2 separate regions of the Homo sapiens genome follow, and region 1 is linked to region 2. Evidence: fine-mapped expression QTL. A gene starts in region 2. The other region holds a variant in brackets. All regions are shown on one strand. Distances are between the middles of the regions.

Region 1 (15,533 bases), 110 kb after region 2:
ATAGGCATGAGCCACTGCATCCAGCCTGAACTATGGTTTTTTAGTCTTTTGTCTAACACAAGCAAACTATCCTGAGTGCCCAAGATAGTTTACTAGCTGAAATCCACTTTCTATTATTGAATCTCTGTGGAGAGGAGGTGTGGGTGACAGTTAAGAACACCACTGCAGTGCAGATCAGAATCCTGGTTAAGAAACCTGAATCTTCCATATACTGGGTGTCTGGTTTGGGGCAAGTTACTGAACTTCTTCAAGCCTCAGTTTGTTTATTTTTAAAGTGCAGATTATAATGGTATTTGCCTCACGGGTTCATGGTGAAGATTAAATAATGTCATACATGGAATATGCCTATCTCAATAGTAAGTACTCACATACAGTATTTTTATCATATAGTAAATACAATAATAAATAGATTACATAATAATACTTAATACACATAGCTACCGGCTATAACAGTTGAACCTCAGTTTCCAGGATTACAAAATGAGATTTCTCTTAATTCTACTCCAGGGCTTTGAAAGACTTTACTTATGAATGATTTAATATATATAGAATTGACTGAATGTTGGATTTTTAATTATTTCTGCTTGATTCAGATTCTTGTGTAACCGCATGATTTTGAACAGCTACTGTTCTTCGAAAAAGAAAGTGGATTTAAAGGAGTATTTATATTGATGTATTGTTGGTTGTTGAAATGTAAATAGCCCTGAATGTGCCACTCACTGGGAAAGGACAGTGCTTTTCATAATGGACAAAATAGCCTTGTTTCACTTTAATAACCTGCTTGTGGTCAAACCAGTCATGGGATTCCTTCAACACAGCAGAATGCCTGCTATTGTCATTTACATATCAATGAGCAGACATTTCTCTGCTCATTGCTATTACACAGCACTGCCATTTCCCTAACTTGGGGACTGCGCTGAGTTTCTATGTGAAATGCACATGTCTTTTTCCTTCATCCAGACGCGCATATTCCAAGCATAGGAAACAGCTGCTGAGGCAGTTACACAACTTACCTATTGTGTATCTGTAGAAGTTGGAAGGGTAAGGAATACATTGCCCACCCCTAGAATCTTACGGATCTATATGTGTATATTTATTTTACAGAACTATGCTATGAACAATCATTCTGAGTTTCAAAGTTGTGCGCAGTAGGTGCGTAGGCTTAAATGAGAAAAAAGAATCCCGGCTTTGCTTACACAGGAAACTCTGACTTTAAAATTCAGAGGAAAGAGCCCCCAAAACTTGTTTCCTCTGCTTATTGCCTCATTCCTACCAATGCACTTTCCCAGAGTTAGAAATAGCCCTTCCATTTCACCGATTTGGAAATAAATGGCAGATTAGTCTCTCCCTTAGGGGCCACTGAGGGAATTGAGGTTGGATGCAGAGTGTGTGATTCTAGACTGATGCCCAGGGCAGCACAGGAAGTGAGGACTGCTAACCCAGGGATCAACCCTAGCCCTCTGTAATGAGTGCTAGCATCATGCTTTCAATAATCTTTTTAGGTGACCTTAATCGCTGCTGCTGAATTAAACAGTGGTTTCGCCCCAGAGCCCGGATTTGGGCATGGATTTTTTACTCAGACCAGTTCAGGGGGAACACAAAGCTGAGGAAACAAAGTCTCTGTCACCTTATCATGTCAGTGGCACCTGTCCTCCATACTGTGAAAGAACTGTTTTGGGTAAATACCTATGTGTTCCCAGATTTTTTAAAATTGAAAATTGGTTATCAAGATCGTACTCATCCTTAGAAAAACTGTGAGGAACACACACTCATACCTCTACCCCCCACATCCATATGAAATAATATTGACCATGCTTGTTATCTACTTGGTACTGTTCTAGATTATGTCTAGGAATTAAATAATCTAACTCTCTCTCTCTCTTTGGATAGAGTCTCACTTTCTTGCCCAGGCTGGAGTGCAGTGGCATGATCTTGGCTCACTGCAACCTCTGCCTCTTGAGTTTAAATGATTATTTTGCCTCAGCCACTGGGGTAGCTGGGACTACAGGTGTGCATCACCACATTTGGCTAATTTTTGTATTTTTAGTAGAGATGGGGTTTCACCATGTTGGCCGGGCTGATCTCGAACTCCTGAGCTCAAGCAATCCACCTGTCTCAGCCTGCCAAAGTGCTGGGATTACAGGTGTGAGCCACTGCCCCTGGCCTAAATCATATAACTCTCTTCTCCAGCAATACAATGAGGCACATACTATTATTATCTAATTTTTCTATTCATCATCTGAGGCAAGGAAAGGTCTAGTAATTTACCCATAGCAGGAGCATAAATGTGAAAAGCACATATCTATCTCCTTCATGCAGAGATACATATACTAACAGGAGGCAACCGCTGTTGACGCAGTTAGCCAACTTCTCTATTATGTATTTGTAGAAGCTGTGATGGTATGAGATAAATTGCTCACCCCTACTGTCTTACTTAGAGATAGTATAAGGTGGAGATATTAATGATAAGAATAAAAATTAGCATTAACTGAGTGCTTCCTAGGCCAGGCCAGCACTCTTCTGTGGGCTTTATGTGTATTATCTTATTCCTCACAAGGCCCAAGGAGAGAGTTATTCTGACGCTCATTTCAGGGCAACAATATCTAAGGCAGACAGAAGTTAAATACTTTGCACCGAGTCATACATCTAGGAAGTAGGAGAGCAGGAATTTGAACTCCTGAATTTGTGTGCTTAACCACTAATCAGTAGTTCCTTTGGATGGTAAAACTCTTCCTCTAGGCCTCTGGGAGATTGGTATGGGTCTCCACAGTGTGCTGGAAGCCACGGATATGAGTTAACCTATCAAGTTGCTTCTTTCTCTGCCAAACCTCAGGATCTTCCCAGTCCCTCCTTCTCATATCTCATTGCCTCTGTCCCACGCTTTCCTTTCCAGTGTTCCATTTCTTTAAGAGCTGGCTTGGGCTTGTTGGCAAAGGGCCAATCTGAGAACCTATTTCATAACCACATATAGTGAGAGCAAGTGAGTTAATATGTTCCAGATACTTACATATTTTTGGAATAGAATCTAACCAATATAATCAAAACTTATTATCATTCACAGGCAACAATCATTCTTTTATTCATTCAATAAACATTGAGTGTCTGTGATGGCCTGGGCACTGTGATAGGTCAACATTAGCATTTGTGACAGGAGAATTTTGGAAATGCAGTGCCCCATTCATTGGAGTGACTTTATGGTGGAAGCCACGGGCACATTGGCAAGCCGGCTTTTTGGCCCCTCTCAAGTCCGTTAACTCAATGGCCATTAACTCTGCTTATTTCAGTGGCTGGTCTCGCTGGCACCACTGCTAAAAAAAGTGACAGAATTTAATTCCATTATAAAAAAAAAAAGAAGACTTCATCTGGGGTTAGATGAATTTTTTCAGATATAGAGGATGCCATTTTTCTGACTGGGAATGTAAAATGTATGTAATAGAACTTAAGTGACCTGTAATTCAGCTTCACAAGAGAAGTTTACATTGGTTTCCGTGATGGGACTGGGACAATGTCTTTGTAGTTGTTAGTATTTTGGTCAGTATTTTTAAATAACTGGGTTTTTCTTTTCTCTGTTTCTTGCCGGTTAGCAAACCTATTTCTTTGGCCAGGCCTTGCCACTGCTGCACTGTTTCATTTTTTCTAACAGAACCTTGTCCTTATAGGTCAGGCAGGGTGACCATCATCTGCAAGCACTTTGTCCTCTCTGACTTCAAAACAACCAATTTATGATGACACGGACAAGTCAGGAGACTCAGAGCTAAAACGAACAGGATTTTGTAGATCTAATGAAGACTCTGTCAGGCCTCATTTTGATCTGGTTAATGAGGATCTGATTGAATTTGCCATCGTGAGGTCTTCTGGGCCAGTAAACGATTTCCCTTATTTTTCTGCACAGAAACAAGGATGAGGGCGAGTTGTCAGTGTAAGCATTTGTATGTCATAAGTTGTCAGACATCATGCATTTGGTGGATGATTTGCTAGGTCATCTCAGAGAGATCATTTAATCTTCTTGTGTTTTAGTTGTTTACATCTGTGAAAGCATAATTACACATATGGGGCTTCCAAGGAAAGTTTTATTAGTGAAAATATGTAAGGTGTATTAATTTGAGGGGCTTTTGCAAAAGAGCTTTGCATCACTTTTTGCTAGACAAAGTGTCATCTTGAGGCGGTATAGAAATTCGATGGCAAGATAGTCTGAGAAAAAGTGCTTGCCAAGGAAATATCAGATCTGAAGGAAGGGAGGGGTCATTCCTGGTATTCCATGCATTTGGAGGTGACTTCTGACAGGGCTTGTTGGTACAGTATTTTCTCTGAGAGAAAAACTGAAATCATAAGAACACCATTTGGGAGCCCAAATTCAATGTATCCACAATTAAAAAAGACAAATTCTTATATGCTCAGCTTCAGATTATGAATTACCAATAACATCTTGATGGTTTTGTTCTTTTGCTTTGAGGGGACTTTGGTGCTGAAAACACTCAAAACTCTGCTTTTCACAGGCAGCACGTAAACAACAGCAAACCTGGAAGATGTTAGTCCTTCAAGATGTGCAGGTTAGCACACTCTGGTTTCATTGTACTCTCTTATGATCCAGTAGCCTCAGATCCCCCAGACCAGGTATACTTTTATAAATACATACAGAACCAATCAATATTTATTTTTGGGTCACTAAAACTATTCTAGCAAATTCCTTAATAAGGTCTCTAGATGAAAATACATCTGAAACCAAAGAATAGTTTTGCTTTCACAACTTCCAGTTCCGATATTTTAAAACACTGATTTAAACCTTTTCATATGTAACAAGTGAGACTCGGGGGGGAACCCTGTATTTCACCTTGCTGCTTACCCACTCTCTTTCTCCTCCTTCCTCCACCCCCTTGAAACTGCAAGCATGAATTCTGTTGCTTTCATCTGTGTGAATTTCCCGTTGGCAGTGCCCCAACTCTCGGAATCATTCTGTTTCCCCCAAGGGAATCAGCAGATGTTCCTTGTGTGATTGATGTACCGTGTGCTGTTCGGCTTTGCCTGGGCTTGTCCACGTGTCCTCCAAAAATGTAAACAGAGGCGCTGCAACTGTGCCTCAAAGTGGCAGGCAGGGCGGCAAGTCGGTAACAAAACCAAACAAATGCAGGAAATGTTGCTCCTTCCTGCAGTATGTGCAGGAGGGTGGCTCTCTCATGATACAGTTCTAGCTGTAGTATCTGAACAAGGTGGGTTCTATGGTGTAAAAAGTCACTTGTTAAGTGCTGTGACAATTTGTCAATCTGTGTTACTTCACACTGAAAAAATTCCCAGCAATGTCATTTCTGCCAGTATCACGGGAAATAGTTATGTAGTTAAAGTTTTAAAAGCTAAGTTCACTGCATATTGTTTATAATAGTTCAAAAGTGGGATGGAATTAAATGTGTAACAAGAATTTGGTTAAAAAAATCATGATATGTGTCTGTTTATATCTCTTCCAGATATATCTATTTTTACCATTTAAAATGAGGGTGTAAAACAGTGGCCTTAAAAATTTTTGATTGTGGGCACCCTTGGGGAGCTCAATAAAAGCTGTGAACCATCTCCCTAGAAAAATCTCCATATGCTCAACATTTTCATGTAATATAAAGAGATTTAAACAGGAACCTGTCTATCACTCAAAGGTTAAGAACTCCTAGTATTAAGAATTTAGTAGAAATAATATTTAATAATTTAGATATATGGAGTAGTGGAACAAGCAAGTTATAAAAGTATGATTCAGCCAGGTGCAATGGTTCATACCTGTAATCCCAGCACTTTGGTTGGCCAAGGCGAGAGGATCACTTGAGCCCAGGAGTTTGATAACAGCCTGGGCAGACTCTGTCTCTACTAAAAAAAAAGAACTAGGTGTGGTGGCAGCATGCACCTGTAGTCCCACATACTCTGGAGGCTGAAGTGGGAGGATTGCTTGAGCCCAGAAGTTCAAGGCTGCAGGAAGCCACTGCACTCCAGTCTGAGAAACAGAGCCAGCCCCGTGCCTCAAAAAAAATAAATAAATAAAAATAAAAAAAAGACTATGATCACATTTTTGTAAAAATAACCCCACCATATATAGTTAAAAAAAAGGGGTGGGGGCTTTGAAAAGCTGAACATTTAGATGCTAATGATGGCTTCTCTGGGGATGATAAGTTTTCTCTGCAAGTCTTCTTTTCTCTTTCCCTTCCTCCCTCCCTCCTTTCTTCTTCTCTTTCTTCATTCATGTCTCCCTCTCTCCCTTCTTCTCCTTGTTTTCCCTTATTTGTATCTTCTAACTTTTCTACAATTAAACAAAAACTACCTTTATGAAAAGAAATATGTCATGTAAGTTTGTTTTAATTAAACAAAAATGCTGTAATCAGCTTTGGCAAGTATGTTAGAACATCTGGGGACATTTCCAGCACCCCTCTTCATTCACCGCATGGTGAAACACTAGGAAGAAGTCACATTAGAATGAAGGGACACTATTTCTGAGTGAGACATGGTTAGGGCCATATAAAAAGAAAGCAGTTAGATAGATATATTTTCAACATAAAATACAGATAAAACATATTTAAAAGAGTCAAAATGAATCAAAATAAATACGTGCCCAAACCATATGTGGTGACCAAAAAGGGCCAGCTACATGTAAACTTTAGCTTGACATCAAGAACATTTCTATTCTTGGAACGTCCTTTGGTGATACCTATGGCAAGTCAACATCTTAAGGGGTTATGAATCCAATATTCCTATTTCTTTCACCTTAGAAGGGAGAAGTTGTTCCATCTTTGCAGACCTTGTTCTCTCAGTTTGAAGGTGAAGTTTGCATTTCATCTGTTTCTTGGCAACTATCTTTAAGAAAACAAAAGTTAAGTTTTGGACTGCAAGTATATCTGCTTGGCATTCATGCTCTCTTTCTTGAGTAACAGGCCCCCCTTATCTTCTTCGGGTCACTCCCTTCTCCCTTTTTCAATTCTGTGGGTTTAGTGTGGCTGGCATCACCCTCCAGCTCCAGGTTGAGCACACGACTCAAGCTTGGTCAGTTTGAGTTCTCCCTCTCTCTCTTCCTCTCTATCTCTCTGCCACAGTGATTGGTCAGAGATGGAAGGGCATATGATCCAATAAATGAGGTATAGAGAGCGAGCTTTTGATAGGGCCAAGGTTTCTCAGGTGGGAAAATATAAGTGTAGAATTGTTCTGAAAAAAGGCTGCAGAAGAATGAAGGCAAAACAGCAAAACAAAGGCACAAGATGGAAGAAGGTGGGGAAAAAGATTCGGGTGAGCATCAAGACCTGGGGCTTCATTTCAGTGCCCAGGTCCATATGTGCCTGAATCTAACTTGCCGTTGAAGTTTTCAATCATGTGGGGCAACAATTTTCCTTTTATGTTTAGGTCAGTTTGACTGAGATCGGTTTTACTTACAATCAATTGAGTCCTGATTAATATACTGATTTAGTAATAATAATAATACTTACTGAGTATGTCTTAAGTGACAAAACTTGTATACAACCTTTATATGCATTCTCTTATTTAATTATCACAATAGTTCTTTTTAAGAAAGGAAACAGGTTCAGAAAGGTTAATTCACTTTCATAAGATCCCTTGATGAGTAGAAGTAGACCCAGATGAAAACCAGATATGTCTGATTCTAAAATTCTATGCTCAACCAGCTATCAACTAAGCAGTGATACTTGATAGAAGTTAGGCCTGACAGCTCCTGGATTGCACATCTTAAGCCTTCATTTTTAACTGCAGTTTACAAAGGGACTCACTGAGGATGAGAAATGAGTATTTACTAAGCATGGCTATTTTTAGGCATTAAACTTACTTCATTTCCTTGTTAGTGCCTCCTTTCATTATTATTATTTTTTGCTTTCCGAGACTAGACAATGTTTAACAGAAGAATCCCAACCAGCTTCTGTGCCTTCATTCAGTTTGGTGGAAACCAATTTACCTGATGCAAACTAATTTAATCTATAACTGCTTGGGGGCTCACTTCAGCTGTAAACAAGTAGACCTGGAGATTAAGCATGGTTCCTTTAAGAATCAAGGAAGAACTAATGCACACTCCCACCAACAGTGTAAAAGCATTCCTATTTCTCCACATCTTCTCCAGCATCTGTTGTTTCCTGATTTTTTAATGATCACCATTATAACTGGCGTGAAATGGTATCTAATTGTGGTTTTGATTTACATTTCTCTAATGACCAGTGATGATGAGCTTTTTTTCATAGGTTTATTGGCCACATAAATGTCCTCCTTTGAGATGTGTCTGTTCATATCCTTCGCCTGCTTTTTGATGGGGTTGTTTGTTTTTCTCTTGTAAATCTGTTTAAATTCCTTGTAGATTTTGGATATTAGCTCTTTGTCAGATGGATAGATTGCAAAAATTTTCTCCCATTCTGTAGGGTGCCTGTTCAACCATTGTGGAAGACAGTATGATGATTCCTCAAGGACCTAGAACCAGAAATACCATTTGACACAGCTATCCCATTACTGGGTATATACCCAAAGGATTATAAATCATTCTACTATAAAGACACATGCACACGTATGTTTATTGCAGCACTATTCACAATAGCAAAGACTTGGAACCAACCCAAATGCCCATCAATGATAGACTGGATAAAGAAAATGTGGCACATATACACCATGGAATACTATGTAGCCACAAAAAGGATGAGTTCATGTCCTTTGCAGGGACATGGATGAAGCTGGAAACCATCATTCTCAGCCAACTAATACAGGAACAGAAAACCAAACACTGCATGTTCTCACTCATAATTGGGAGTTGAACAATGAGAACACATGGACACAGGGAGGGGAACATCACACACTGGGGCCTGACATTGGGTGGGGGTTCCAGGGGAGGGATAGCATTAGGAGAAATACCTAATGTAGATGGCAGGTTGATGGGTGCAACAAACCACCACGGCACTTGTATACCTATGTAACAAACCTGCACATTCTGCACAGGTATCCCAGAACTTAAAATACAATAATAAAAAAAAAGAATATAGGAAGAGTGCCAGGGTTACTTTGGCACTCTTCCTATATTGGTATGTTGTTATCAACCCAGAGTGAGCTTTCTTTTCATTAATAAGGTGAAAATAAAGAGGTGTATCAGTTCTGCACTGCTCCTTTCTCAGGCAGGGTTTTCTTAACTCTTCATAGAACAGAAACGTTCTCTCTTGAAGATTGAAGACAAAGGTAAACACTTGCCTGGGAAATATGGTTTTTGACTCTAGCTTTGAGGTTCATGCTGTACTCAGAACATCCTGTTCTTCTCAACTGACTGTG[A/G]TGTGGTAGATAGCAGTCCCTCCCGGGCTGTTAACAGCTGAGCTCATTTTTCATAGATGCTGCTCAGTGAGGCTGAGGAAATGGGCCACTGCTGCTTCCTCCTTTGTCACTCTTACCATTAAGGATGGGTACTCCCGGTTTCTTTGAGAAGGCACTTGCCATCTTCTCTTAAATTAGATCTTTAATTCCTTTGAGATATTTGGCAAACTTAGATAGTACTGGAAGCTTAGTGAGTGGAAAAGAAATCTCAAAAAATCATTTGTTTAGCATAGGAGAAAGCTACTCTGTTGAACCCTGCTGTGATAGAGTTAGGAAACGAAGAGTGGCTTCTGGGAAAAGGTGTAATAAAGCCTGATACTGAGAAAAGACAGCATTAGTAAAGTCATCCAGCTTTTTAGGAACTGGAATTTCTGACTTCTCAATGACCCCTTCAGTAAGAGCTGGAGAAGTGGCTTTTTGTGCAACAGATATGTTAACTTCCGAATAAACCTGTGTTTAGTAATCACATCTATCACAAACACACAAATGTAATAAGAAAAAAAGTTTCATTTCTGTGGTCAGGAACCTGATGCAAAATTATTCCATTGCATTTGGAGATTATAAAGGCATAAGTGGAATAGGGGTGGCTTCTGCTGGTCACCAGCAAAGGAAGCTGTTTCCCTTCTGCCTCCTCTGCTGTGTTGCAAAGTGTCTGCTTTGTCATCCAGGAGATGGACAACAGTGGTGTCTGTTTTTTGGATGGCATTTGTTAGAGAGCATAAGGTATGTCCTGTGACTCTGCTTCTCACTGGGCAGTTCCAAAACTTGCCTTAGCATTGGAATAATGAAACTGCTTTAATAAGAACAGTGAGATCCTTTGTCAAACCCAGACCGGTTGAAAAGAAACACATAAGAATAAGGCCTGTCCATCTATAATTTTACACAGGTTATTCATACTATAATTAACCAGGGAGTCACTACTCTTGTCTTGCCTCATTGGGCTGGATAAATTAATCAATCAAATTAGCAACTTTTGCCACGCATTCATTAGGATGTGTAGACATGACTCCAGGGCAGGCCAGTCTTCAACTAGGAGCAGTGGGTAGGGAATGGAAGGTGACAATTAGAAGGATATGCCAAGGCTGAGCCAATGTAAGGAGCATTGAGGCATCATATAGGAAAGCCCAATATAAGATGAAAAGGATTCCTGGGATGTTCGTCTGCATGGATTTTAAAGACTGGGTTGTTAAAAGAACAGAGAGTGGCAAAGCCCACTTTGCTTCATTCAAGTTAATCAACATATCTCATTTCCATCTGGCCATAATGCTCACCATTTTTATGGTAATCATCATGGTCAGCAATCAGAGATGTGTGTTAAAACCCCATTCCTTCCAAACAGAGATGTGAAACAGAGGAAATCTAAGTCAGATATTTCAATGCAACATGTATGTAGGTGGTAGTGTAGTCTCCCTTTTACACCTAAGAGAGCACATCACATGCCCATTGACTCATTCCGTTATTTAATTAACCATCATTTATGGTTGAGCAGAACCAGTACTAATCAGGCATGGTGCCACATAGTGGGGAACAAATGAACATCTATTTTGCCCTCTAGATAGTCACAGATCCATGGATACATAAGAAAAGATGGAAGAAAGAAAAGGGCCGGCTCTCACTGGGGAGGAGAAGAAGGTGTGCTAGAGAAGGTGATGCCTGAACAAGGTGTTTAAGAATAAAACAGAGATTCCCCTGGGAAATGAGCACAGTCTTCTTAGACAGAGGCAATAGCTTGGACAAAGGCACAAAGTGGCCTGGTGGGCCTGAAGAAGTCTGTGTAATTTGCTATGACAGTGTGAGAGGGAAAAGTGGTGGGATGTGATCTGCTGATTTGGCAGCATCCAAATCATGCAGGGTCTTGAATGTTTCTGCTTCTGTTCTAAGGTAAAGAACTTGGCACAATCCAAAGACCTGAGCTCATAAACACACAGCAGAGGAGAACAGAGGCTACTCAGTTAAAGACACAGAGGAGTATCAACTAATTCTTGCGTTCATTTTGCACACACCTTGAGATTGGGTTTGTAGGAGTCTACCTCTCAGAGAAACTGGGTATTATAATAATACAGCAACTCATAACTTTTAGAGAACTGCTATATATTTTTCCTTGACTGCAGAATATGTTTTGAAAAAATGAATACCATTTCTAGCTTTAACTTTAAGATGCCTTAATTTGAGAGACCATTAGTCATGAAGGTGTTTCCATAGCAAATGTGTGTGGGATGTCCTAGCTTTGTTGGCAATGGTTCAAGGGAACTTATATCATTAAATTGGGATGAGGCCTGGCATGATGGTTAGAAAATTCATGGCACTGTTCCCATAGCACACGAGGCCTCCATTTAAGGGCAAGATAAAGGAAAGGCAAAGACCAAGAGGAGAAATGCTGGAATGAAAACAAGTAAAAAACGGAAGATAAAAATGGAAATCACAGTTCAGTGTGAATAATAGGAATGCAAATGGTACTACTAAAATAGGAAGGAACATTACTTTTCAAAAAGGCAAAGCAAAGGAAAATTGTAGTAGCAAAAGCATTTTGCATGGTAAAATTGTACACTGTGTATGCCTGTAAGAAGCAAAGCCACCTACTCTAATTTTTCCCAGCTCGATGCTGTGAATTTGGTGAGTCATTTTATGAAGGTTTACTATAAAGCCCCAATCTGCATATTTTTAAAAATAATACTCTTGGATTAAATCTTCTTTTTCCCAGCAGCTGCCTACTAATGGTCCCATTTTATAGACAAAATTTTTCACCTGGGCTAGTAAGTAACACACTTTTAAAAAAAAAAATCAGTAAGTTTATGGAATAACCCCTAGGGCTTACTGCTAAGTAAGAAAAAGTCATGGTGAAAAAAAATGTGTCCACCATGCTACTATTTAACTAGGAATCTGAATACAAATTTGCTTATGCTAAAAGCAATTGCAGGAAACGATTATTTATGGAGGAGGGTGGAAACCAGGTGGTGGGGGACAGGATTCACAGCTAGATATGTCTGAATCTATTTTGTTTTTGTTTTGAATTCAAAAGCATATAAATGTTTAACACGACTATAAAAAATAATCATGAAACAAAGCAATCTCTGAAATTTGAAAGCGAAATGACATGAATGAACCTAAGTCTCAAATTAGTGGCATACTCACAGAGAGGAATGATTTCAAATGATACAGTATGTAGATATCTCCTAAGAAAAAGAATTGTGAAACAATTTTACATTGTTTTTTAAAATTATTATTGATGATAGTGTTGTTACTGTTTACATCTGCCTGCCTGCCTTCCTGCTTTCCTTCTTTCCTTCCTTTCTTCCCTCCCTCCCTCTCTTTCTCTTTTCTCTCTCTCTCTTTCTCTCTCTCTGTCTCTCTCTCTCGTTCTTCTTGAGACTGTTGTGTGCATTATGGGATAAAGCAAGTGAAATTATGTTGGTATCAGGAACTAGGATTTTTGGTATGGAAGAAAGGTAATTTAGATTTAAGAGAAAAAACGTTTAAGTAAAAACCTTGTAGTCTTGGCCAGCTGTGGTGGCTCACACCTATAATCCCAACACTTTGGGAGGCCAAGGTGGGAGGATTGCTTGAGCCCAGGAGTTTGGGACTAGCCTAGGCAACACAGCAAGACCCCATTTCTACAAAAGAGATTTTTTTTTTAAATGGCTGGGCATGGTAGTGCATGCCTGTAGTTCCAGCTACTCAGAAGGCCAAGGCAGAAAGATCGCTTGAGCCCAGGATTTCAAGGTTGCAGTGAGCTGTAATTGGGCCACTGCACTCTAGCCTAGGTGATGGCCAGAACTTGTCTCAGAAAACAAAAACAGAGCCAAAAAGAAACCTTCTAGTCTTTAAATTATATTGTAATTATTAATTGAAATTGTGATGTATTTTAATGTAAAAATATAAATTCCCTGGCTCTATTGACTGAAAAGACTTAGCAATAATGACAAGGTAGGTAAAATGAGTATCTCTGGGTTCATTTACTAGGTTCAAAATCTAGTGCTCAGACTGTGAGCACTAAAAGGAACCTGGGATCTTTGGGCGAGAACTGATCACAGATCTGGGGCAGGAATTGTGTAACATGAACCTGGAATAATTTATCATACTGAAGGGCAAGAGAGCTAGCAGTGACTTTTGGGGCTATGTCTAAAACACTTTGGAGCCAGCTAGGGAAGCCTTTTTCTAGGCAAAGATGAGATGATGTGAGCCTCAATAAAATAATAATAACTACAAGAATTAAAACAATCAACTATGTTTTAACCTATAGTGTTTCCAAAACATACACACACACATGCACATGTGATTGAATAGTTAGTAATATTATATATTATTGTTAATCACCTCTAATTATGATAATGAATTGTGCTTAGATTTAAGGAAAAGTTCTTATTTCTGATTATATATGTATATATCAAATATATTCATCTTCATATATATTCATTCCTATATATATATTCATTTCATCTTCATGTATAAATTCATGTATATCTTCATATATACATATACATATGAAGATATACATAAGATGAAATGATGTGATGGCTTGGTTTTGCTTCAAAATAATCCAGTGGTGTGGGGGGGAATGGAATTAGATGGGGGTGTAAATAAAACAAGTTTGACTGTGAGTTGACAATTATTGAAGCAGAGTACATGGAGTTTATTATATTCTTTTTTCTTTTTTGAATTTTGAAATTTCAAAATATATTTGAAATTTTTCATATAAAAAGTTTAAATAAATAAATTGCTTTGCTCATCTCTCCCTGTAATCTGATGAGCCTGCTTTCCAGTGTATTTTCATGCCTCCATGGGAACTACTCAGTAAATGTTTGCAAGTCATCACGCTGCTGTTGTTGAAGATATTTCTCTAGCATTATTGAAGATTCTCATGGGGGATGAAAATTGAACAGATAGAGAAATGAATTCTAGGCGTAATTCAAGTCACTTAGTGGGTAACTCCTTTTGGACAGTTATGAGCTTTCAGACTTGAACATTTGATGTTTGGAGTTCTAAAAGAGACTCCCGTCTCAAAGCGAAAGACAGTAGTCTTCTTATCTAGGAGTAATACTTCTATGAACCACAAAGAAACAAAGTTTCTGAACTCAACTGGTCATGAAAATTGGCATGATGTGGTCTCATGACTGATTACATCCTCAATTGCAGGAAGACTCAATTGCTAATTATTTTACCATAAAGCAGTTGAGCTCATGACTATCTTTGGTCAGTAAGTATTTGTAATTCTTTACTAGCAAACTCCATGCTTCAGTGTATGGCATTAAGTCACTCTGAGATATTTGCTGTCATGCTGAAGGTTTTAATGTGTATAATCTTTCATTTATGTGGTACCTTTTCTTGTATTATTGATATTTTTCCTCTCAATTTATTTTTTCTGAAACAATAATTCAGATCTCTGATCTCCTGTGTATAATCCTATAATTGTGTTTTTTCCCCCCATTTGTTGTATTTTCCATCTCTGTTATTTCGATCTAATTTCTGGGCAATTTCTACAACTTTATGTTTCTAATTCTACCTACTTAAAAAATTCTGGTCAATCAGAAAGAATCCTTTCATATATTTCTCATGGTCTCTTTAAAAAATAGCATCTTATTCTTGTTTGATTTGTTTTGTGGATATAATATCTTTTTATATTTCTCTGAGGTTATAATATTTATTTATTTATTTATTTATATTTAGGGAGTACAAGTTTCTCACATGCATATATTGTATGTGAAGTGGTGAAGTCTGGGCTTTCAGTGTACCCGTCACCCAAAGAGTGAACATTGTACCCAATATGTAGTTTTGCAACCCTCACCCCCTCCTACCCTCCCACTTTTTGAAGTCTCCAATGTCTATTATTTCCCTCTGTATGTTCACATGTACCCATTGTTTAGCTCCCACTTATAAGTGAGAACATGCAGTATTTAACTTTCTGAGTTATTCACTGAGGATAATGGCCTTCAGTTCCATCCACGTTGCTGCAAAAGACATAATTTTATTCTTTTTTATGGCTGAGTAGTATTCCATGCCATATATATATATATATATATATAAAACATATATAAATACATACTTTATATACTTATATAAAAATGTATTTTTTATATTTATATAAAATGTGTGTATATATATAACTTCATTCAGTCTCCATTGGTGGACACTTAGGTTGATTCCATATTTTTGCTGTTGTGAATAGTGCTATGATAAACATATGAGTGTAGGTATGTTTTTTATATAATGATGTTTTCCCTTTG
Region 2 (15,533 bases):
TAGCTGGGACTACAGGCGCCCGCCACCACGCCCGGCTAATTTTTTTATATTTTTAGTAGAGACGGGGTTTCACTGTGTTAGCCAGAATGGTCTCAATCTCCTGACCTCGTGATCTGCCCGCCTCGGCCTCCCAAAGTGCTGGGATTACATGCGTGAGCCACCGCGCCCGGCTGTCTACTGTTAAACCTTAAAATTGAAGAGGTCTTTGGCAGCTGGGGGGTGCAGATAAACACTCAGTAACCCTGACCACCACGTGGTTGCCTCCGGTGACAATATAGACGGTGAGAGCTTTAAAAAGAGATAGGCCAGGAGGTTCTGGCACCAGGAAGGAGAAGGTTTGGGGAGGAGCCCAGCTTTGAGAAATGGCCCTGCAGCTATGCAGTAGAAAGTTGAGTGAGAATTCCCGGAGGCCACTGATCAGATTCAACAGTGACCTGGACACAAAACCATCCCTCCTTGCTGCCCTCCCACCTCCCCCACCGAACCCTCCAGGGCCCGCCTCAGTTGCTGGGCAAGAGAGATTGTGGAACTGACCAGGCCCCTGGTTCCTTTTGTCAATTTAGGCCAAAGGGGAAATGAAAAGTTTAAATGGTCTTAAATAGAAAGCACTTTTGCTACTTTCTCTTATCTGTACCTAGGGATAATTTTCATTCCAGTTAAATTATTTGGCAGATTAACATTTTAATATGTTCCTTGTTTCATTTTCCAGTGGGCCTTTTAATAAATGTAGCTGTATCTTACAGATTATGTCAGCTATGAGATGTCCCCTCAGCTGCCTTGAGTTTTGATTTTTTTTTTCCTACTACTATCTCTACTCATCTCCAGATGGTCTTCTAACTTTATCAGGTTTTATTTCTCAAGGTCCTTTTTAGGAAAGGTAATATCAGGAGCTCCCTTGAAAACCCTACCAGGTATTTAGAGCTCAAATTTTGTAGTCCATGACTTGAGAGTTCAAATCTGGCTGTAAAACCTTGGGTAAATTACTTATTTTCTTTAAGACTGTATTCTTATATGTTAAATGCTGTCAACTATACTCACTCGATTGGGTTTCTTAGAGAATTAAATGGGAAAGCATGGCTGGGTGCGGTGGCTCATGCCTGCAATTCCAGCACTTTGGGAGGCTGAGGTGAGTGAATCGCTTGAGCCCAGGAGTTCAAAACCAGCCTGGGCAACATGGTGAAACCCCGTCTCTACCAAAAAATTCAAAAATTAGCCAGGCGTGGTGGAACGTGCCTGAAGTCCCAGCTATTCAGGAAGCTGAGTGGAAAGATAAGCTTGAGCCCAGGAGGCGGAGGTTGCAGTGAGCTGTGATCGCACCGCCACACTCCAGCCTGGGCAACAGAGTGAGTCTCAAAAAAAAAAATAAATAAATAAATAAATAAAAAGAGAGAGATAGAAAGCATGTAAAACACTTAGCACTGATGCATTGTTAATGATAAAATGATAATAACCTGCATTATTACTTTTGTTGTTAAGCGATGCTTCACTCCTTTTTCCTCCCACTCTCCAAACAATCTGAATAGCTTCCACCAGAAGAAACTGAGTTTTGTCTAAAATCATTATGTGTCACCCTCTGACTGAAAGTTCTTTTGTGTTTTGTGAATCGCAGTAGATCTAAACCCAGTGCAAATGTCTTAGCTTGTGTCCTTGGATTCTTATTCAAGCAGAGCAAGTCAGGGTGCTAGCAGGGAGGCAACTAAAAGTGGTCTTCTCCTTTCTGCGGGTAACAAAAAAATAGATAAATAAGAGGCATAGGTATCTAGTTGAAGACATAAGCCCACAAGAAAAGCTAACTTATTTAAAGATAAATCTGATCATATAATCTGTCTGCTAAAAACACTCTCAAGAGTACTCTCAAGTACCCTATGCCTGCCTCCATCTACCAGTTTTTTCAACAATACTTATCCTCCTTGGTTTATGCCTTTGAGATACTCCAAGATCAAGCCCGTTCCTTTCCTCCAAGGAGAACTAATCTTGGGTCACTTTCATTGGCTTAGCTGAGATCATTCACTTTTGGGGTTTTCTTATTTTCCCTCTGCCCCGCAACACACAAATAAATAAGTGCCCTGTCTCTATTTGCCATTAACACTCTCTCAAGAACTCTCACTTGACTCTGTACTTATTGGTTAAGTTGTGAGTTTTCTAGACACCTAGCACTCTATCTGGAAGTAGGTGCGTAATAAGCACAACTTTAGTGACTGCAGCTAGCTGACTAGCAACAGGCAGGTTGCCTCTGGCTCAGTCTGGAAGGCCCTGGCCCTAATGTGCCTTCAGGGAAAGGGCGGGTCCAACTGGGGAAACAATATCTAATATTTGTGCTTTTATTTGTCAACTTATTTTAAAACCCAGGTTCATTTTTTGAATTTGTTTTGACAGCATTCCTAAGATTTTTAATACTTTGATTAGAAATGTTCTAAGTTTTAGAAATTAATTAGACAGGCCAGGCGTGGTGGCCCACGCCTGTAATCCCTAAACTTTGAGAGGCCGAGGCGGGTGGATCACCTGAGATCAGGAGTTTGAGACCAGCCTGGCCAACATGGTGAAACCCCATCTCTACTAAAAATACAAAATTTAGCCAGGCGTGGTGGTGCATGCCTGTAATCCCAGCTACTCGGGAGGCTGAGGCAGGAGAATCACTTAAACCTGGGAGTCGGTGGCTGCAGTGAGCCAAGATCGCGCCACTGCACTCCAGCCTGGGTGACTGAGCGAGACTCTATCTCAAAAAAAAAAAAAAAAAATTTCATAAATTACTATCAAATTGCATGATAATAATAAAGTACTTGGGAGAGCCTTGGTAAACTTAGCACAACAACACAGAAAGCACCTTTGTAATTCAAAAGCTGTCCAGAAATACCTGCTTGTTTCCCAGATGGGAAGGGCCTGACTAAACTTCCAGAAAATGTGACTAAACATATATATGTCAGGAATTGAAAACTATTAGCAATGAACATTATGTACCATCTAAGGCTTACGTTTAAGACTAATGTTTATTTCCAGTTTTTTTCTGAGTACTCTGTAGATTCCCAAGTTAAAAATTACTGTAGTTTCTCAAATCAGTTTGTCTCCTAATGGGATGATTTAAGGTGGGAAACACACATATATAATTTGAAAAACTCAGTGCGGGAAGTAACTCTCCCTGAGTCTATGGGTTAAACTTTCTGTTAACCCTGTTCAACTGGTTTTATAAGGCTTTCAGAAGGGGTCCTGCTGCTGCTAGTGCAGGCAGTTAAAAATAGTATGGAGAACAAGGGCTTGGGGGAAGTCTGAGTCCAATCCTAGCATTTTGTTGATTTAATATTTCTGTTTTTTAGATGAGACAATTTAAGCACATGACCGAGAGGCCAAGTTGGAGACCAGGTTTAGAAGAGAAAAACTTTCACTTGACTCCTAATTTGTACTCAGTGACACATTAACGACAATGTAAGTGAAAGCAGGGAACTAAGGGTGGGTCAGGTTAGGTGGGAGACCAGGAGTTGTTATTCTAGTGTTATGGTAATTTCATGAATTTACTTTTGCTTCTCGATCTTCTTTTTGAGTAGTAAAAGAGGTTTCATGCCTCCAGTGAAATTACTATTTTTAAGCAGAGTTCTATCTGAAAAGTTCTATAAGAAAAAAAAAAACCACTCTTTAATTTTTTCACATGTAACTACTTAGTTATGTGTACTAATGAAAAAATAATCTAGAAGTTATTTTTTCAAATCGAGTTTTACATATTTTTTAAACAATAAAACGTTTTCTCCTGTTTTATAATGTCATTATTTTTGCTTCATTTCTATATCCTTTAGCTCAGTATTAAAAAGAAAAAAAAAACACTCAAAGTGGTGTGTTTTGCAATATTGATGATCAACTAAGGTCGGGATATTTATTTCCATCTGGTAGAGTTCAACTTCTGCCTCCTGTTTGCTTTCTCCATCTGCCTGCCTCCCTTCATCTTTCTTTTTTTCTTTTCCCCCTTCTCCTTAATGGAGTTGGGGTTAACCCTGTCTTAGGCCTAATCGTTTTAGCAGGCTCCCGCCTTCCTGTTACACTGGTTTTTAAGGTTGTTTTTTTTTTTTTTTGGTAGGGTTTCAAATAAACTTGAATGTCTACACTTAATACTTTCACAAGCTTCAAATTCTTTTTATTTTATTTTTATAAAGAGCAGGACTCAGGCTAGGACGGCATTTGGACTAGGTAAAAAAGAAAATCTTCAGTTTTGTGCACACAAGTTTTAAAATACATTGTACAGATTTTTTTTTTTTGGATACACACCACTCTTTACAGGATCCGCGTTATATCTGCTTTCAGTAACTGGCTCTCCTGTCCGCATCCAGTAAGGTTTCCACTCTTCTCTCCGTTGACTGCTGAAGTTACTGAAACAGCAACCACAAATGGCCTTACTAACCTACTTATTTTGCAATTAAACTTTTAAAAGATATCCCCCTACTCCTCCCCTAGGGTGGAACAGAAATGGCTCCGCGGCGTTGGCAGCTCGTCTGCGAGGGGACCCTGGCTCCCCGAGGCTGCAGTCCTTTTTCTTGGACAGAACGCCCCGCAGGACCGTTCCCTCCACTTTCCCCCGCACTAAGGCAGCGCACCGCCAGCACACACAGCGCTGGCGCCCGCATCGCGCCGCACCACACGCGTCTCCGGCTTGAGGAGCCAGTCACCGAGACCCGGAGCGGGAACGAGATGTAAACACGGAGTGGGGACATGCAGCCCGATCTGAGAAGGCGGCGTGAAGAGTAGACACAGCCTGCGCCAGGCGGTTCTTATTTACCCAGCACTTACACTCCAGGGCAAGCGGGCCCAGGCAGCGCACTCTTGGAGAAGGATGCACTGGCGCAGAGCCTGGACCTGCTGAAGCGGGAAGGAGGAGCTAGGGCTGGGGGCGGAGCTTTCACACGCGCACCCTCTGTTCCCTCCCTCCCTCCCTCGACACAAGCAACTGGGTCTCCAGCCGCCACTCCGGGTTTATTTGTTTACAAGCGGATTACGTCAGCTCCTCCCTCTCTTCCCTATCTCTGGACCCGCCTCCTGAACTCTTTTCCCGCCCCTTTCGGCTCCGAACCGGCTTGCGTCACAATGGTGCGATATTCGGATTGGCTGGAGTCGGCCATCACGCTCCAGCTACGCCACTTCCTTTTCGTGGCACTATAAAGGGTGCTGCACGGCGCTTGCATCTCTTCGCCTCTCGGAGCTGGAAATGCAGCTATTGAGATCTTCGAATGCTGCGGAGCTGGAGGCGGAGGCAGCTGGGGAGGTCCGAGCGATGTGACCAGGCCGCCATCGCTCGTCTCTTCCTCTCTCCTGCCGCCTCCTGTCTCGAAAATAACTTTTTTAGTCTAAAGAAAGAAAGACAAAAGTAGTCGTCCGCCCCTCACGCCCTCTCTTCCTCTCAGCCTTCCGCCCGGTGAGGAAGCCCGGGGTGGCTGCTCCGCCGTCGGGGCCGCGCCGCCGAGCCCCAGCCGCCCCGGGCCGCCCCCGCACGCCGCCCCCATGCATCCCTTCTACACCCGGGCCGCCACCATGATAGGCGAGATCGCCGCCGCCGTGTCCTTCATCTCCAAGTTTCTCCGCACCAAGGGGCTCACGAGCGAGCGACAGCTGCAGACCTTCAGCCAGAGCCTGCAGGAGCTGCTGGCAGGTGAGCAGGGCGAGGGCGTCGGAGGGACGCGGGCCCCACATCCCTGGGTCAGAGTCCGGCCGTCGGGGCTGCGGGAACCTCGGCAGCGCCCCGGGGCCGGTCGCGCTTGGGCCCCGCCGCGGGACCGGTGTGGTTGCGCTGGGTGGCCGCTAACAGCGGTTCCCCGCGAGGCTTTAGGGGCTGGACGGAGGGCGCCCCCTTCCCCCCAGCTGGCAAAACGGAGAGGAGAAGACAACACGCACAACAAAGAAACTTAAGCCCACCGAGGCGGGAGCTGCGGTCCGAGGACCGTCGGCGGATTTGGGGACAAAGGAGCCGTGGGGCTGGGGTGGGTTCGACGTCCCCTTTCCTCAGCCCCCTCCAACCGTTGCGTGGTCGGCGGCCCAGCCCCGGGGTGGGAAGCTGCGCCGCTGCCCCGGAGCCAGCTCAGAACGGACGTGCCGTCTCCCCGCGCCTCCTGCCCCTGCCCATTAATCATCGGATTTGTCACCGGCACAATTAACAGCCCTGCCCAGAGCGTGGTTTAGGGTTGCTTGTTTTTCTTCCCTTCGGGGTTAACAGTCCGGTGGCGCTTCTCATCTCCAAAGCCATCAACTCCATTGTGTGCATCTGGGGTGGGGTGGAGAAAGTAAACAGTTTCTCGCCTGGCCATAGGTGCCAGTGGCTTCCCGACTGGCCGAGGCTGCGCGCCTGATTCCTGTTTTGGCGGCTCAACCGGTTGGTTCCTGGAGATTGTTTTGTCCGGTACTACTGTGTTATTTCTAAAACCCTGCCCGCTTTTTCCATCCCCGCACATGCACAACAACGGATGCAATCCTGGACATTTTAAAAAGTTGATAGTTTTCATTTTCGCTCCTCAAAGGAGCCTGGGGTAGGAGGAATCCGCAGTGGGAGCTAACGATCCTAAGCGTTGTTTCTCTGTTCTTCTTTTCTTCTATAGAACATTATAAACATCACTGGTTCCCAGAAAAGCCATGCAAGGGATCGGGTTACCGTTGTATTCGCATCAACCATAAAATGGATCCTCTGATTGGACAGGCAGCACAGCGGATTGGACTGAGCAGTCAGGAGCTGTTCAGGCTTCTCCCAAGTGAACTCACACTCTGGGTTGACCCCTATGAAGTGTCCTACAGAATTGGAGAGGATGGCTCCATCTGTGTGCTGTATGAAGCCTCACCAGCAGGAGGTAGCACTCAAAACAGCACCAACGTGCAAATGGTAGACAGCCGAATCAGCTGTAAGGAGGAACTTCTCTTGGGCAGAACGAGCCCTTCCAAAAACTACAATATGATGACTGTATCAGGTTAAGATATAGTCTGTGGATGGATCATCTGATGATGATGGATAAATTTGATTTTTGCTTTGGGTGGGCTCCTCTTGGGGATGGATTATGGAATTTAAACCATGTCACAGCTGTGAAGATCTGGCACAAGATAGAATGGTAAAAAAAAAAAAAATTTTAAGTGACAGTGCCATAGTTTGGACAGTACCTTTCAATGATTAATTTTAATAGCCTGTGAGTCCAAGTAAATGATCACTTTATTTGCTAGGGAGGGAAGTCCTAGGGTGGTTTCAGTTTCTCCCAGACATACCTAAATTTTTACATCAATCCTTTTAAAGAAAATCTGTATTTCAAAGAATCTTTCTCTGCAGTAAATCTCGCAGGGGAATTTGCACTATTACACTTGAAAGTTGTTATTGTTAACCTTTTCGGCAGCTTTTAATAGGAAAGTTAAACGTTTTAAACATGGTAGTACTGGAAATTTTACAAGACTTTTACCTAGCACTTAAATATGTATAAATGTACATAAAGACAAACTAGTAAGCATGACCTGGGGAAATGGTCAGACCTTGTATTGTGTTTTTGGCCTTGAAAGTAGCAAGTGACCAGAATCTGCCATGGCAACAGGCTTTAAAAAAGACCCTTAAAAAGACACTGTCTCAACTGTGGTGTTAGCACCAGCCAGCTCTCTGTACATTTGCTAGCTTGTAGTTTTCTAAGACTGAGTAAACTTCTTATTTTTAGAAAGTGGAGGTCTGGTTTGTAACTTTCCTTGTACTTAATTGGGTAAAAGTCTTTTCCACAAACCACCATCTATTTTGTGAACTTTGTTAGTCATCTTTTATTTGGTAAATTATGAACTGGTGTAAATTTGTACAGTTCATGTATATTGATTGTGGCAAAGTTGTACAGATTTCTATATTTTGGATGAGAAATTTTTCTTCTCTCTATAATAAATCGTTTCTTATCTTGGCATTTTAATCAATCTCTTGTCATGATTATAGAGGTTTAGCTAAAAGTATTTTTTCTTAGAAGACAGGTTCTATAAACTGAATCTCTGTTGCACACTGGTCATGCTGGAAAAACATTTGATGAGGAATGAAGATGCTCTGTATATACATGTTTAGGTTTTACAGGAAACACAGGAGTAGCATGTTTTAAAAATTTCTAAAGTCAAAACATGGACACATTCACAGGCTAATGATCTCATGAAATAAGGATAAGAGACCACGGTAGCATCTACCAAAAATGTGATACTCAAAGGATTACATTTCATTGCTTCCCTGTTGAAGTGAAGATATAAATGTTCCATTCTGACCCACCTTTGAAAAACAATTACTTTGCCCCATGGATTCTTTGTTCAATTAGAAATTTCCCCGGGGCAGGTGACCCATAGTCTTAAAGAACAGGCTAAACACCACAGAGAGATTGGTTGCTTTTTGCTTTTCATCACCTGCAAGATGTACATAAAAATCACATAAGCTGGAATTCAACAAAAGGTATGTTTATGAACTTTTATTCTCAAAAGTTGAAATGCTGACTTTCTCGATTCCTCATTTTCAGACTTTTATTTCAGATAAATACTAAAAACCTAAGTGAACCTTGATAATGCTGTAGTGTAGATTACTTCACTACCCCATATAATAGAAGGACTTGCTGTTTAGTTGTAGAGGATAACAGCGTTTTTCAGTGGAAATTGAAAGTGGAAAAATTGAATTTTGCTCTACACAGTTAACATATAGTGGCCTTTTTTTGGTATATATGTAAACATGTTGACACTGGAAATACGCAGTCTGAAATAAAATTAGTAATTACTTGAAATTAGTAATCTCAAATAACTTTTAAGAAGTTATTTCTACACCCAGGAATAAATTATTCTGATTTTGTAGACAACACAGGAATAGGCCACTGAATATGCAGGTATTTAGAGTACAAATGTCTGTGGATATTATTGGCACACCATTCTCGAGAGTTAGAATTCGTAGACCCGCAACACATGGACTACCCTTGCCAATTGTTATGGTTTTATTTTTAAACCTATTCTGTGAAAAAGCTCCTCGGTATTTCAAACTTGAATTACAATAAAAACACCAGGTAGGGTTGTTTTTAAATGGGTCTCACCCCAGTGCTGACTACTGTTGTTTACCAACTACATTTCATCTGGTAACTCCATTGAAACTAAGTACCTCAACCATTTTTTTTTTTTATCATAAAGCCTTTTTTCAAATGGAAAGTTGTTTTTGAAGATCTTGACATCAGACTTTTTCAATCTTTGAAAATGATGGAAACAGTTAATAAAAATGTTTATTTTAGAATTCAGGTGATGTCTGGCTTGTGAGGAGCTGTTTATAAGTTTGTCTTTGAAAAAGGCTTGCACACATCACTCTGAGACCAGCTGTTTCCTGTGACTTTAACCTTACCTTCCCCAGACAATTGAGCTGAACCTGTATCTGCGGTACAGTAGCTGTTTGTGATGTATTTCTTGTTCACTGTTTCTGGGGAATGTTTTGAAATATTTTATTATAAATCCTTTTAAGATAGGATGACTACTTTCAAAATTATTGTTGCCTTTGGCACCAGGAATTCATAGTTGTGATTGGCAGTAAGTTTGAGGAGTGTTACTTTCTAAGTTTTAACAGGTAGTTTTGAAATTATTTCCTTTTTTCCAAATTTAAGTAGTGCCTCCCTCTGTAATGTTGAAACAAGGCTTCAAGTGGATTGTATAGCAAGAGTTACCCTGGTTCATGCAGGATAATGCGGCTGTTATCTTTGTCATCTGGAATGGGAATCTCATGTCTTTATCCTTATGTGCAATATTTCTATAATAATAGACTGGAAAGGCCACCAGAAAGTGGCTTTCAGGTACATTGCACAAATAGTTTCCTTAAGTCATTATAACTCACACATTGCAAGTAATTAATTTTGTTTTGTATAGGTGTTGCAGTTTATGAAATTGGCCTTCAAGTTAAAAGGAAGGAAGCCGTATTCCCGATGGCTAGTGTTTAATGACTACAGGTTTCCAGGCTCCCTTTAATCTTGGGAGCAAATAAATCTACTATTGGACTTCTCCCTGCGTGACTTTTAACATTTCTGATACTCTCTCTTCTTCCTCTTTACAGAAGAGAGGTATGATAACTGAAGTTGTACTTTGCATATTGAAGTTTAAAGATACTTCCTCTCCCCTTTTCACCCCTATTTCAAATGATGTGATAAAATCCTCTTGATAGGCTATATGGAGAACATTTGTCAATAGTTTTATCTATGCATGGAAGTCTTCAAAAAGTATATCTTGGATTGTCTAAAACTGAATAGATTTCTTATTTATCTGAAGGTATACAGACTGCCAACATTTTAGACTTATCTCTCAGTCTCTGCCACTGAACTTTTATATATGGCTGCTATCAAAATATAACCGGTTTATTTTCATATTTGGAACTAATATAACAGTATCACAAAATCTTTTACAGTAAGATAGTTTGTAATACCAGCCGACCCAGCTGCTTAACTGAGTCCTTAAATCATTTAATATATGGGACTGTAAATAGAGAAATCTGTACATTATGAGATCTGATTTCTGGTTATGCCTATAGATCTTTATTTTCTTTATCCCTATAGATCATTTTCTTCTGATGTTAAGTGTTATATTTTTGAAATGCTCCTAAACAAGTAAGCCTTAGATTGTATTAATCCTGAGGATTGATACCATTTCCTCAACACTTTGTGGAGTATGATTGACACCAGTTTTTTTTTGACTGCAGGTTTAACTTGGCTTATCACTTTTCGTATTGCTCAGTATGTCCAAGATAGGAATAAAAAAATGTAGTTCAACTTCTGACTGTTATTTATGAGCCTTTTCATGGTATTTATCATTTTAGTATTGAAGATGCAGTGTTCTTTTGGGAATTACGTATGCTTAGAAGAGAGTACTGATGCTCAAAGGTGAAATGATTTGAATCTAGAGTTGGATAAAAAGGGAAAGGATGGGGAAAATGAAAACTGGGAAGCTAAACTGAGAAGGAATTGCAAGGTTTGGTGATAAAAATTCATTTGCTATGGTCATAGTTGTGTATCGAGAGGTTTGCACAGCACAGTCTCTTGGCAGAGTTTAGGAATCTCTACTCTGGGGATTCTGCAGTTCATGAATCGTCAGGGAGACTCTGCATTCAATTTGTTTCTGTGAACATGCAGGTGAAAGTGGTAGTACAGGTGGAACTTCATGGGAACTGGTTTTGGGGGAGGTGTGGATGGAAAGCACAAATGTCTCAGTATTTTCTAAAGGGAGACTATTTTTAAAGGTGTCTTGTTACAAACCACTTGATTATAGCCTCTTTTCTTGTACCTTTAAGTTGTGAAGGCCATTTGTGACTCATTCCTGGTGGTAGAAAAATGACCAAGTGTAGGCCAGACATATAACATCACATTAGTACCATTATAGTTAACTGGATCCCTGTATTTGGAGAATATTACATCAAACACTATGTATAATTTCAAATTGTAGCATTAATAGGAGATACTTCACCCGTGAGTACATTTACTTTTAGTGATTCTCTAGATGGTCATCTCCAAAGTTATTTTGTCATTCTTTTAGAATATTTTTGTATGTATTTTCATGTGTGCATGCAAAAGCATGTGGCACATTTTCTAAACAAATATACATATATTTGACATACACTAAAAATTTTGTTGATAGGATGCATGATCAGAAACATTTAGAGACTATTTCTTTAGGTTTTCACTAAAGTAGATGAATATTTGCTCTCCCCAAAATAACTCATAATTATGTTCTTTAAGTGGTAAGTCTTAAAATGACAAGTTAGTGTAGCAATACAAAGAGGATTGCCTTGTATAAGTTTAACTTATTTGCATAAGTCTTTATAATAATAAAACTAAGTCATCCTTTACAGCCAACAGATATCCAAATTGTGTTACACCAATTTGAAATCTATGTTCCCATATATTCAACTATGTGTTGCTGTGTGTTGAAATTCACATTTTTGTTTCTCAGAAGTTTTTTTTTAAATCTTAGGGTCTTTGTAACATTGATATGCATGGTTGTAAGAGAACTGAATTATCGAAGTTGTAGATGGGTGATTTAATTATTTTAGTAGTTATGGCTTAGCAAGAAAGGCCCTGTATCTTTTCCCTCTTGTTCTGAGCCATCCCTAAATTTTTGAAGGAAAAGATGACTAACAAATTGGACTTTATTTGAGAAGATTCCATAAATGACCATAAGCCATAAAATGATTAGACTTGACAATTGCTTTATGAGCAGATTTGAGTACACTTTCTAGTAGTTGTCTTGATTTATGGCAGTTTTGTCCCAAGTCAGTAGACTAAATGGAGTTGTATTTCCCACAAATTGTACTTGTGAGTCTTCAAGTTATCAATATATATTCTAATTTGACCTTCCAACAACTGGATGAGGTTGGCAAGTGGGTCAGTATTTTTTATCTTCATTTTATGGATAGAAAACTGAGGCTTAGAGAGCTTAAGTAATTTACCCTAAAGCCAGACAGCTCGTAAACAGCTAATTCACAATTTGAATTCAGGCTTTTCTGATCACAGAATCCAAACTCTTAACTATTGTTACATTGTGATGCATGATTTATCTACCTTCTTTTACACTGTTGGAACATGTATTTTAACTTCTCATTGTGAGTTGGCCATCTTTGGTTATTTTCAGCCTTGAAACTCTTTCACTATGTTCCGGAGGCATATAGCAGTCTACAATTAGGCTCCTTTCTTTGAGAGGCAGTTGGAATTTAGCATAAAGAATACTAGTCTGGGACTCAGACCAATAAGTTGAAATCTTGACTTGTACCAACTTGTGACTTTGGACCAGTTGCTTAGCCTCTCTGAGCCCATCATTCCTTGTGTAATAATGGAGACAAGTCATTTGTTGTCAAGGTAAACATGAAATCATATAGCTAGTGAATGTTTGGATTCTTGGAATTTGAATACTCTATCATGGAGGCCAACAAAATATAGCTGATTGTTTTCTTGTGTGTGTGTGTGTGTGTGTGTGTTTTAACAATTTGATCATAGTATGATTGTTAGGAGTTTCTTGAAAGATTGCTTTAGCCTATAGCTGCAAGAAATGTACTTGCGTTTTTGAAATACAATAATATAGGAAGGAAAATGAACTGCTTTTCCATTGTGAAGGATGGAAATAGACAACACAGGCCTTGCATCTTATTTTATAGAGCTTTCCTGAGCTGTGTGCCTAACATTGTGGTTTTCAGAGCTATTTTCTCAGTAAAAAAAGAGTCCTTCAGATCCTTTGTCTATATTGAAGACACCTTAAGTTGAGAGATGGAGTAATGCAACCGAACATATATAGCAATGTAGCCCTGTACAAAGCATGTTTGCTTCCATTATGTTTTTTAATCCTCACAACAACCCTTTGCTATATGAAGTTGACTTTTCCCAGGGTTTTTAGTCCTTCAAACCATTGGTATTTGGCCATGCTTTTGCAAGAGATTTTCAAACAGTGATTTTTAAACAGAACTCAGTGGTTCTCAATCTTCTTAATCTAGAGTGGTGTGAGTATTTCCTTTACTGCAAAGAAAAGCAGCCTTTTTATAAATTGTCAGTTTGAATTTGAGTTTCTTCCTGTGATGTAACCTGATGCAATGTTTGCCTGAATCACTAATAATGTAACTGATTTCCCCTAGCCAGTCATAAATGAGTCAGTGATCACGGATTCTTTTAGTTTATACTCAAGTTGCTTTTTCTGTGTGCAGATATCCTCATTGAATAGCTTGCTGTTGGGCTTGTATAGCATTATGGTTTACATCAGGGAAGTAGATAGCCAGCAGAGCTTTGTGCTAATTTATTTTGCAATCCTATAGGAAACAAAGGACCCATTCTTTGTTGAACCTGAAGAGACTTCTAGGGAAAATCAGCCTCTGACCCTTTCAGAAGTCTTGCATCTTAAAGCTCGTGTGTGGTTCAGGCCATGCTTGAACCTATGTGTGTAGCCTTATAAGTCAGTCAGTGTGCCCCTATAATGTTTAAGATTGTGATGTAAGAATAAGAGTTTGGAACCCATTAAAACAAGGGTTAGGTGGCCAGTGTTGTCAGGAATATTTCTCTCTCTCAAGCCGGTAGTCATTGTTACAATTAAGGATGGAGCTCTTAGGTAATATCACTAGATACAAGCTCTTTTTCCCTCTCAGATTCTTGCACTTTTTTCCACTACCCTTTAAGTCTTTCAGTTATTTTTTAACTTTCTTAAGATATTTTCTGGTCATTAATATACAAGTGGTGTTTTGTCTTGTGTCTATCACCTATATCTCTTACATTCATTTATTAAACACATACTTGTTGAGTCCCTCCATGTGCCAAGTACTGTGATAAGCACTAGGGTTGCAAAAATAGTCACTGTGCTTGCCCTCAATGAGCTTGGAACCTAGTGGCAGAGAGAGGGTTATCCAACAAATGTTGGGCTGGATCTGAGACATGCTGAGGAAAAGGGAAGTGGTGAAGTGGTGTCCTGAGAGCTCTAATAGAGAGATAGGACTGCCATAGAAAGGTTTCCCAGAGGAAGGGACACTTGAGCTGAGATCTGAGGAATGAGTAGGGGTTTAAGTGGAGAAGGCAGGCGAGAGAGAGAGAGGAATATGCACAAAACCTGGCTCAAGAGTAATGGTGAACAGGAGGGGTTGGACAAAGACCAGTGAAACTGGAATGGAGAGAAATTAATGGGAGTGAGGCCAAATCGTGGGGCTTTACAGGTAGCGTGTCCATTTGATTGATAACCATTTGAGTGACCATTTTGGTTGATAAAATTTGAGAATTTTATCAACCAAACCGTGATTCTTGAGAGTAAAAGAGGGTGCTGTTAATTATTAAACACAGACTATAAGCATCAGCCAGGACATATGGTCACCTCGCTTTTATAGGCCTTGTTAACAGTATTATCTCTTTTTAAAGCGTTGGCAACCAGCAGTGTGTTTACTTCCTAATGAAGGTGTCAGGGAGTTGGTCCAAAAAGGACCCAAATGGAACTCAAAGGCTGGGTTTTTCCAAACGGCTAGATTGATTTTTTTTTTCCCGATACAGATATTAGTGACCCTTTAACGTTTTAAAAGTTTGGCATAAAAAGATGGATTTTATTGTGAGCTACTAGATTAGAGTCACTTTCATGGTGTATGAAACAGCACAATTCAAACAGATCTTGAATATTTTCTATATCTTTAAAATATAGCACTTGTCATTTTTGCAAAGGAGTTTTATTTAAATAGGATTTCTTTTCTTTTCTTTTCTTTTTTTTTTTTGAGACGGAGTCTCACTCTGTTGCCCAGGCTGGAGTGCCCAGACTGGAGTGCAGCGGCACGATCCCGTCTCACTGCAACTTCCACCTCCCGAGTTCAAGTGATTCTCCTGCCTCAATGTCCCAAGTAGCTGGGATTACAGACACACGCCACCATACCCAGTTAGTTTTTGTATTTTTAGTAGAGACGGGTTTCACCATGTTGGTCAGGCTGGTCTCGAACTCCTGACCTCAAGTGATCCACCTGCCTCTCAGCCTCCCAAAGTGCTGGGATTACAAGTGTGAGCCACTGCGCCCAGCCTAAATAGGATTTAAAAAATAGTTTCATTTTAGGTTTACATTTTGAGTAT

The links. PIP is the estimated chance that this variant, and not a neighbour inherited with it, causes the effect.
Region 1: its variant is fine-mapped to the expression of LINC01619 in whole blood (TOPMed, PIP above 0.99).

The regions. Positions count from the first base shown.
Region 1 is chr12:92,024,562-92,040,094 of GRCh38, reverse strand. All of the region lies in intron 1 of LINC01619 (long intergenic non-protein coding RNA 1619), which reads left to right. Among named protein-coding and RNA genes, the nearest start is that of LINC01619, 110 kb to the left of the region's middle. RefSeq lists enhancers at 4,795-5,104, 4,828-5,122. The variant A/G (reference allele first, on the strand shown) is at 9,274.
Region 2 is chr12:92,135,481-92,151,013 of GRCh38, reverse strand. LINC01619 (long intergenic non-protein coding RNA 1619) reads left to right here and starts at 8,183. Exons shown (of 5, transcript NR_132341.1): 1 at 8,183-8,407. BTG1 (BTG anti-proliferation factor 1) reads left to right here and starts at 5,168. Exons shown (of 2, transcript NM_001731.3): 1 at 5,168-5,626; 2 at 6,567-10,736. The coding sequence starts at 5,479. The coding sequence ends at 6,934. BTG1-DT (BTG1 divergent transcript) reads right to left here and starts at 4,929. Exons shown (of 3, transcript NR_135036.1): 1 at 4,771-4,929; 2 at 4,252-4,352. RefSeq lists enhancers at 4,517-4,816, 5,651-6,187, 6,147-6,196, 6,457-6,506, 6,527-6,766 and 1 more and a silencer at 5,407-5,726.